Regions from separate parts of the Homo sapiens genome. Here region 2 is linked to region 1. Evidence: fine-mapped expression QTL. A gene starts in region 1. The other region holds a variant in brackets. All regions are shown on one strand. Distances are between the middles of the regions. Region 1 holds the start of AHCYL2 (adenosylhomocysteinase like 2). Region 2 overlaps AHCYL2 (adenosylhomocysteinase like 2).

What was found. PIP is the estimated chance that this variant, and not a neighbour inherited with it, causes the effect.
Region 2: its variant is fine-mapped to the expression of AHCYL2 in monocytes after interferon gamma (Fairfax 2014, PIP 0.95).

Annotation. Positions count from the first base shown.
Region 1 is chr7:129,223,687-129,226,598 of GRCh38, forward strand. It overlaps AHCYL2 (adenosylhomocysteinase like 2), which reads left to right and starts at 1,344. Exons shown (of 17, transcript NM_015328.4): 1 at 1,344-1,753. The coding sequence starts at 1,391. RefSeq lists an enhancer at 848-957 and silencers at 1,238-1,307, 1,428-1,677.
Region 2 is chr7:129,334,734-129,337,645 of GRCh38, forward strand. All of the region lies in intron 1 of AHCYL2 (adenosylhomocysteinase like 2), which reads left to right. Among named protein-coding and RNA genes, the nearest start is that of STRIP2, 98 kb to the right of the region's middle. The variant C/CT (reference allele first, on the strand shown) is at 1,338.

The DNA.
Region 1 (2,912 bases):
TTCTGGGACGGCATCTCACTCCGTTGTCCAGGCTGGAGTGCCGTGGCATGATCTTGGCTCACTGCAGCCTCTGCCTCCCAGGTTCAAGCGATCCTCCTGCCTCAGCCTCCCAAGTAGCTGGGATTTCAGGTGCCCGCCACCACGCCTGGCTAATTTTTGTATTTTTAGTAGAGATGGGGTTTCACCATGTTGGCCAGGCTGGTCTTGAAGTCCTGATCTCAAGTGATCTGCCGGCCTTGGCCTCCCAAAGTGCTGGGATTACAGACGTCAACCACTATGCCCAGCTGGCAAACGATTTTCAAAGGCTGTAACAATTGCTCTATTTGTTGGACATTAGTTTTAGACAGTTTTTTGTTATTAAAAAGGACGCTGCGGTGCATGTCTTTTTGCTTACATCCTCTAAATGTAAAATTTAAAAATAATACAGAAAAGTACAAAGTAAAAATCACCTTAAATCCCATCACTTAGGAAATTAACTACTCATATTCACTATTCATATCCCTCTATGCTGATATATGTATCTGAATTTCAGATGATTGCCCTATTAGAATTATAGGTGAAAAGATTTGGCCTCGTTTAAGGCAACGTGTAATTCCTCAGCCTTGAATTTTGATCTAGTGATACCTAACTTCTTTGAGGAATGATCTTAGCTTCCAAACCCAGAATGTGACAGAAAGCGCCACAGCAAGCAAGGTCCTACTTTATCCCTTCTAAAAACAAAGCCACTGAAGTTTGGAAGGGTGTTGAGTTCTCAATATCACAAAGAAAAATAAAGCCACTTCCAGCCTGGAGCCGCCGCTTCTCCTTTAAATACTCGCTCACGTGATCGCAGACGGGCACGCGCGGAGGAACTTCACGCTGTCAGGACAACGAGCCATTCCTCTACCACTTCCCCTCCCCTAAGGCTTCTTGGCGTTCCCTCCCCGGAAGTCACAACTCCTCTGGAGACTTTCTCTTCCTCATCCCCTCCGTCGAGTCACCTATCCTCACTCCTTTCTGTTAGCTGCCGGCCCTAGCGCTCCCTCTCCTCGGCTGAATCTCACTTAGTGGAGGAAAGGCTGAAAGGACTACAACTCCCAGGGGACGCTGCGGGCCCCGCCCATGGGGCGCGCAGTGTAGGTCGGGGCCTGAGGTCCCACGGTCTTCTCGCCGCGTGCGGCCGGGAGCAAACGCACTACAGGTTCCGTGGCGCCTCGCGCGAGGCCAGACCGGGACGGGGCGGGGCGGGGCTGGAGGGGCCGGGACTGGCGGGCGGAGAAAGGGGGTGGGAGAGGAGGCGATGGAGGGGAGGAGTGGGGACATGGGGGAGGGAAGAGGAAGGGAGGTGGGAGGCGGGGCCGACCAAGAGCAGGAGCTGGAGTCTGAGCCGGTGGTTGCAGCGGAGGCGGTGATGTCGGTGCAGGTTGTGTCAGCCGCGGCTGCCGCCAAGGTGCCTGAGGTGGAGCTGAAGGACCTGAGCCCCTCCGAGGCGGAGTCGCAACTAGGACTGAGCACGGCCGCCGTGGGCGCCATGGCCCCCCCGGCGGGCGGTGGAGACCCTGAGGCTCCAGCTCCCGCCGCGGAGCGGCCCCCGGTCCCCGGCCCGGGCTCGGGGCCCGCCGCCGCTCTCAGCCCCGCCGCCGGGAAGGTGCCTCAGGCGTCGGCCATGAAGCGGAGCGACCCACATCACCAGCACCAGCGGCACCGCGACGGCGGCGAGGCCCTGGTCAGCCCCGACGGCACCGTCACCGAGGCGCCGCGCACAGTCAAGAAGGTACTGGGGCCGGGCTGCCTCTCTAGGAGAGGAAGGGAGGGGAGGGGAACTGCAGATCCTCTCGGCACGGCGGCACCACCCTCCACGCCCTCCTTTCTGATCGCAGGACCGGAGATACCCCTTGTCCCCTTAAACCCACTCTCTCAGAGATGCCCCCCAGCCGGCCCCTCGTGCTGGGAGCGGAGACTCCAGGAGGCACGGCCGTACTTCGCTCTGAATAACATGGAGGTAGCGCTCTCCCCTACTACTTGGAATAGGCAGCGGGAGGAGAGACACCTAATAGTACGTCCCGCGGCCCCAACACGCTCCCGGGTGTGATTTTCCAGCCTATCGGGGAAGAGACCTCGATAGTATAGAAAAACCTTACCGCTCACGGGAGTTCACACAGCAATAAGGATGAAAAGATCTTTAATACTTGGAGAACGAGTAAGGTGTAGTCACCTTGCATAGAAATCGTCAGAGTTGTCTGGTTTCCATACAGTTGATGACTTTCTGCCTTTCTGTGGCCAACCGTGGCCATACAGCAACACGATGCTGTGCCCTTCATTTCCAGCGACTGCGATATTCTCTCTTCCCTGAATATGTAAAAGGGTAATGGAGAGATTCTCCTCACTCTTTCGTGTTAAGAGCTTTGTCCTCCCTGCTGGGTATAGTTGGTCACCAGGATTATTAGGCTGTGTATGAAGAGAATGAATGTCTTATTGATTGCTTTATTATAATCTGAAAGTGATAGGAAGAAATGCTGCTACTTTTGGGAAAGACGATCTTTGTGGGGTTTTCGGTCTTAGGCGTCAGCTTCTTTCAGACAGTTTTGAGGAGGTCTCAGAATACCAAGAAGTAACTGCCTAGGTGGATGATAGCCCTGTATTACCCGTACATTGTCTATCCATAGTTGTCTGTCTCTCTCAAAGCTTGTCTTTCTTTCTCTCTTAAAGCTGAATCAGCACAGAAAAACAGGGCAAGTATTGGAAAAGACAGAAGTGTGGATCATATAAAAAGGGCTTACAGCTTCAATTTCGTAGACACAGTATGGGCACAGGGATTAATGTTTTTTTTAAATTGTTGTGAATGGTTTTTAATTGCTTTATCAGAACAGCAACAAAGAGACGGGAAGTGTGCATTGGTTTTACTGTGTGGGACCAGCTGAATTGGAACCTTG
Region 2 (2,912 bases), 110 kb after region 1:
TGAGAAATGCTGTTTAAATCTGTGAATTTAAATCTGGGTTCTTTGGAGGAAGGCATAAAGGGGTGATTGATTAATATCATTTTGGCTGCTCTTCTGCCACAAGGAATATGAGTAGAATAAAGAAAGGAAGAAGAAGATACAAAGAAATTCAGGTTAGAGAAGAAACACTACATTGAGAATCAAGAAGCATGGATTTTGATCTGTATTGTTACTAATTTGGTCTGTGATTTGATCTATATTCTGTTAATGATTTGGTCTGTGATTTCACTTCTCTGGTCCTAAGTTTTTGACCTATGAAATTAGTGGTTTGGAATTTTTTTAAAAATTGTCTGAAATTCTAAGGCAGAAAAGAGAAGTAAAGCAGCAGGCCGGGCATGGTGGCTCATGCCTGTAATCCCAGCACTTTGGGAGGCCAGGGCGGAGGACTGCTTGAGCCCAGCCTGGACAACACGGTGAAACTCTGTCTCTACAAAAAATAAAAATAAAAAAATTAGCCTGGCCTGGTGGCACATGCCTGTAGTCCCAGCTACTGGGGAGGTTGAAGCAGGAAAATCACTTGAGCTCAGGAGTTCAAGACCACAGTGAGCTATATGATCACATACCTGCACTTTGGCCTGGGTAACAGAGTGAGACCCTGTCTAAAAAAAAAAAAAAAATCCATATTGTTATTAAATAATATAAAGAGGAGAGCTTGTCTGTTAAAGAAAAATACCTATTACAGTTAGTGTTGTTGCATAGCAAATTATTCCCAGAATTTAGGGGCTTAAAGTAATCGTTTACTTTGCTTCTGATTTTGTGGGTCAGGATTATGGGAATGGCTCAGCTGGATAATTCTCATTTCGGGTTTCTCATGAGGCTGATGTCAGATGGGGCTACAGTCATCTGAAAGCTCAGTTGGGCTACATGTCCAAGATGGCTCATTCACATGGCTGGCAGTTGATTTTGGCCATCAGTCAGAGTGTCTGCATGTAGTCTTTCCAGCATGATGGTCTCAAGATAGTCAGGTTTTTTACATGGTGGCTCTCTTCTACCAGCGTGTCCCAAAGAAGACCAGACAGAAACTGCGTGACTTTTCTGACCTTGTCTTGAAAGTTACGTAGCATTACTTCCCCTGTACTGTATTGGTTGAAGCAGATACAAGCATGCCCAGATTCAAGGGGACAGGTCCTAAATCCCACTTCCGTGAGAAGAATGTCAGAGAATTTGGGGGCCACGTGTTTAAAACTGCCACATTTTCTCTTCATAGAGTAGATGGCTTCTATTGAGAATAGCACATAAGTACTGAAGTTTCTTTTCTTTTCTTTTCTCTTCTCTTCTTTTCTCTTCTCTTTTCTTTC[C/CT]TTTTTTTTTTTTTTTTTGACGGAGTCCCACTCTGTCACCCAGGCTGGAGTGCAGTGGCATGATCTTGGCTCACTGCAACCTCTACTCCCAGGTTCAAACGATTCTCCTGCCTCAGCCTCCCAAGTAACTGGGATTACAGGTGCATGCCACCATGCCTGGCTAATTTTTGTATTTTTGGTAGAGACAGGGTTTCGCCATGTTGGCCAGGCTGGTCTCAAACTCTTGACCTCGAGTGATCCACCTGCCTCGGCCTCCCAAAGTACTGGGATTACAGGCTTGAGCCACCCCACCCAGCCTGAAGTTTATTCTTTCTTTTTGCTTGGTTGAAGCACAACCAAGCAAAAGAAATGTGTTTAAAATTATGATCACAGAATAAGTGTTACAAATTTTTCAGTGGTAACTTAATCCAGATAGTAATAACCCATACATTAATTTCTTGCCTTTCTCTTGTATGGAGATTATGCACAGGAGTTTGGACCTTATTCTGTAGACAGTTGGGAATCACTTGAGGCAGGAAGTATAGAAGTTGATTAGAAATAGGTAAGACTGGAGGCAAAAAGAGTAGCGCCAATTCTTTTCTTCCCCAAGCAGTGCAGGTGAGCAGTGAGATCCAGAACTGGGGCAGTGGCAGTTGGGATAGAGAGATGTTTAATTCAAGACATAGTAAAACATTAATAAAACGTAATTTTTTTTTTGAGACAGGGTCTCACTGTCACCCAGGCTGGAGTGCAGTGGCACGATCACAGCTCACTGTAGCCGCAATCCCCTGAGCTCAAGCAATCCTCCCACCTCAGCCTCCTGAGTAGCTGGGACTGCAAGCGCAAGCCACCGTGCCTGGCTAATTTTTAATTTTTTGTAAAGACGGGTGTCTCATCATGTTGCCTAGGCTAGTCTCGAACTCCTGGACTCAAGTGATCCTTCTGCCTTGGCCTCCCAAAATGTTGGGATTACAAGTGTGAACCACTACATGCTGGCTAACATATTTGTAAAGAAATTATTTATATTCGAATAGCTAGTAAATAAATGAACAAAATTCAAAATGTTCAAAAGGATAGATAATAAAAATAAGTTTTTTATCATCTCTTCTCCCCTACTTGCCCAGTTTTCCCCTAAGGCTATCACTATTACTATTTTTTTGAGTGTATTTCCAGAGATTCTATGCATATACAAACTTACTTTTATCGTACTGTATTCACTATTCTGTACCTTGCTTTTTTCACTTAAAATATATCTTGGAGATAGTTTATATCAAAACATATATAGCTGCCTTGCTGTCTTAACTATAGAGGATTCCATTGTATAGATAGGCCGTAATTTATTTATTTATTTTTATTTTTTATTTTTTTGGAGATGGAGTCTCGCTCTTCTCCCAGGCTGGAGTACAGTGACGTGATCTCAGCTCAGTACAACCTCCACCTGCCGGGTTAAAACAATTCTCCTAGTTCAGGCTCCTGAGTAGCTAGGATTACAGGTGCACACCACCACGCCTGGCTAATTTTTGTATTTTAGCAGAGACAGGGTTTCATCACGTTGGCCAGGCTGGTCTCGAACTCTTGACCTCAGGTGATCCACCT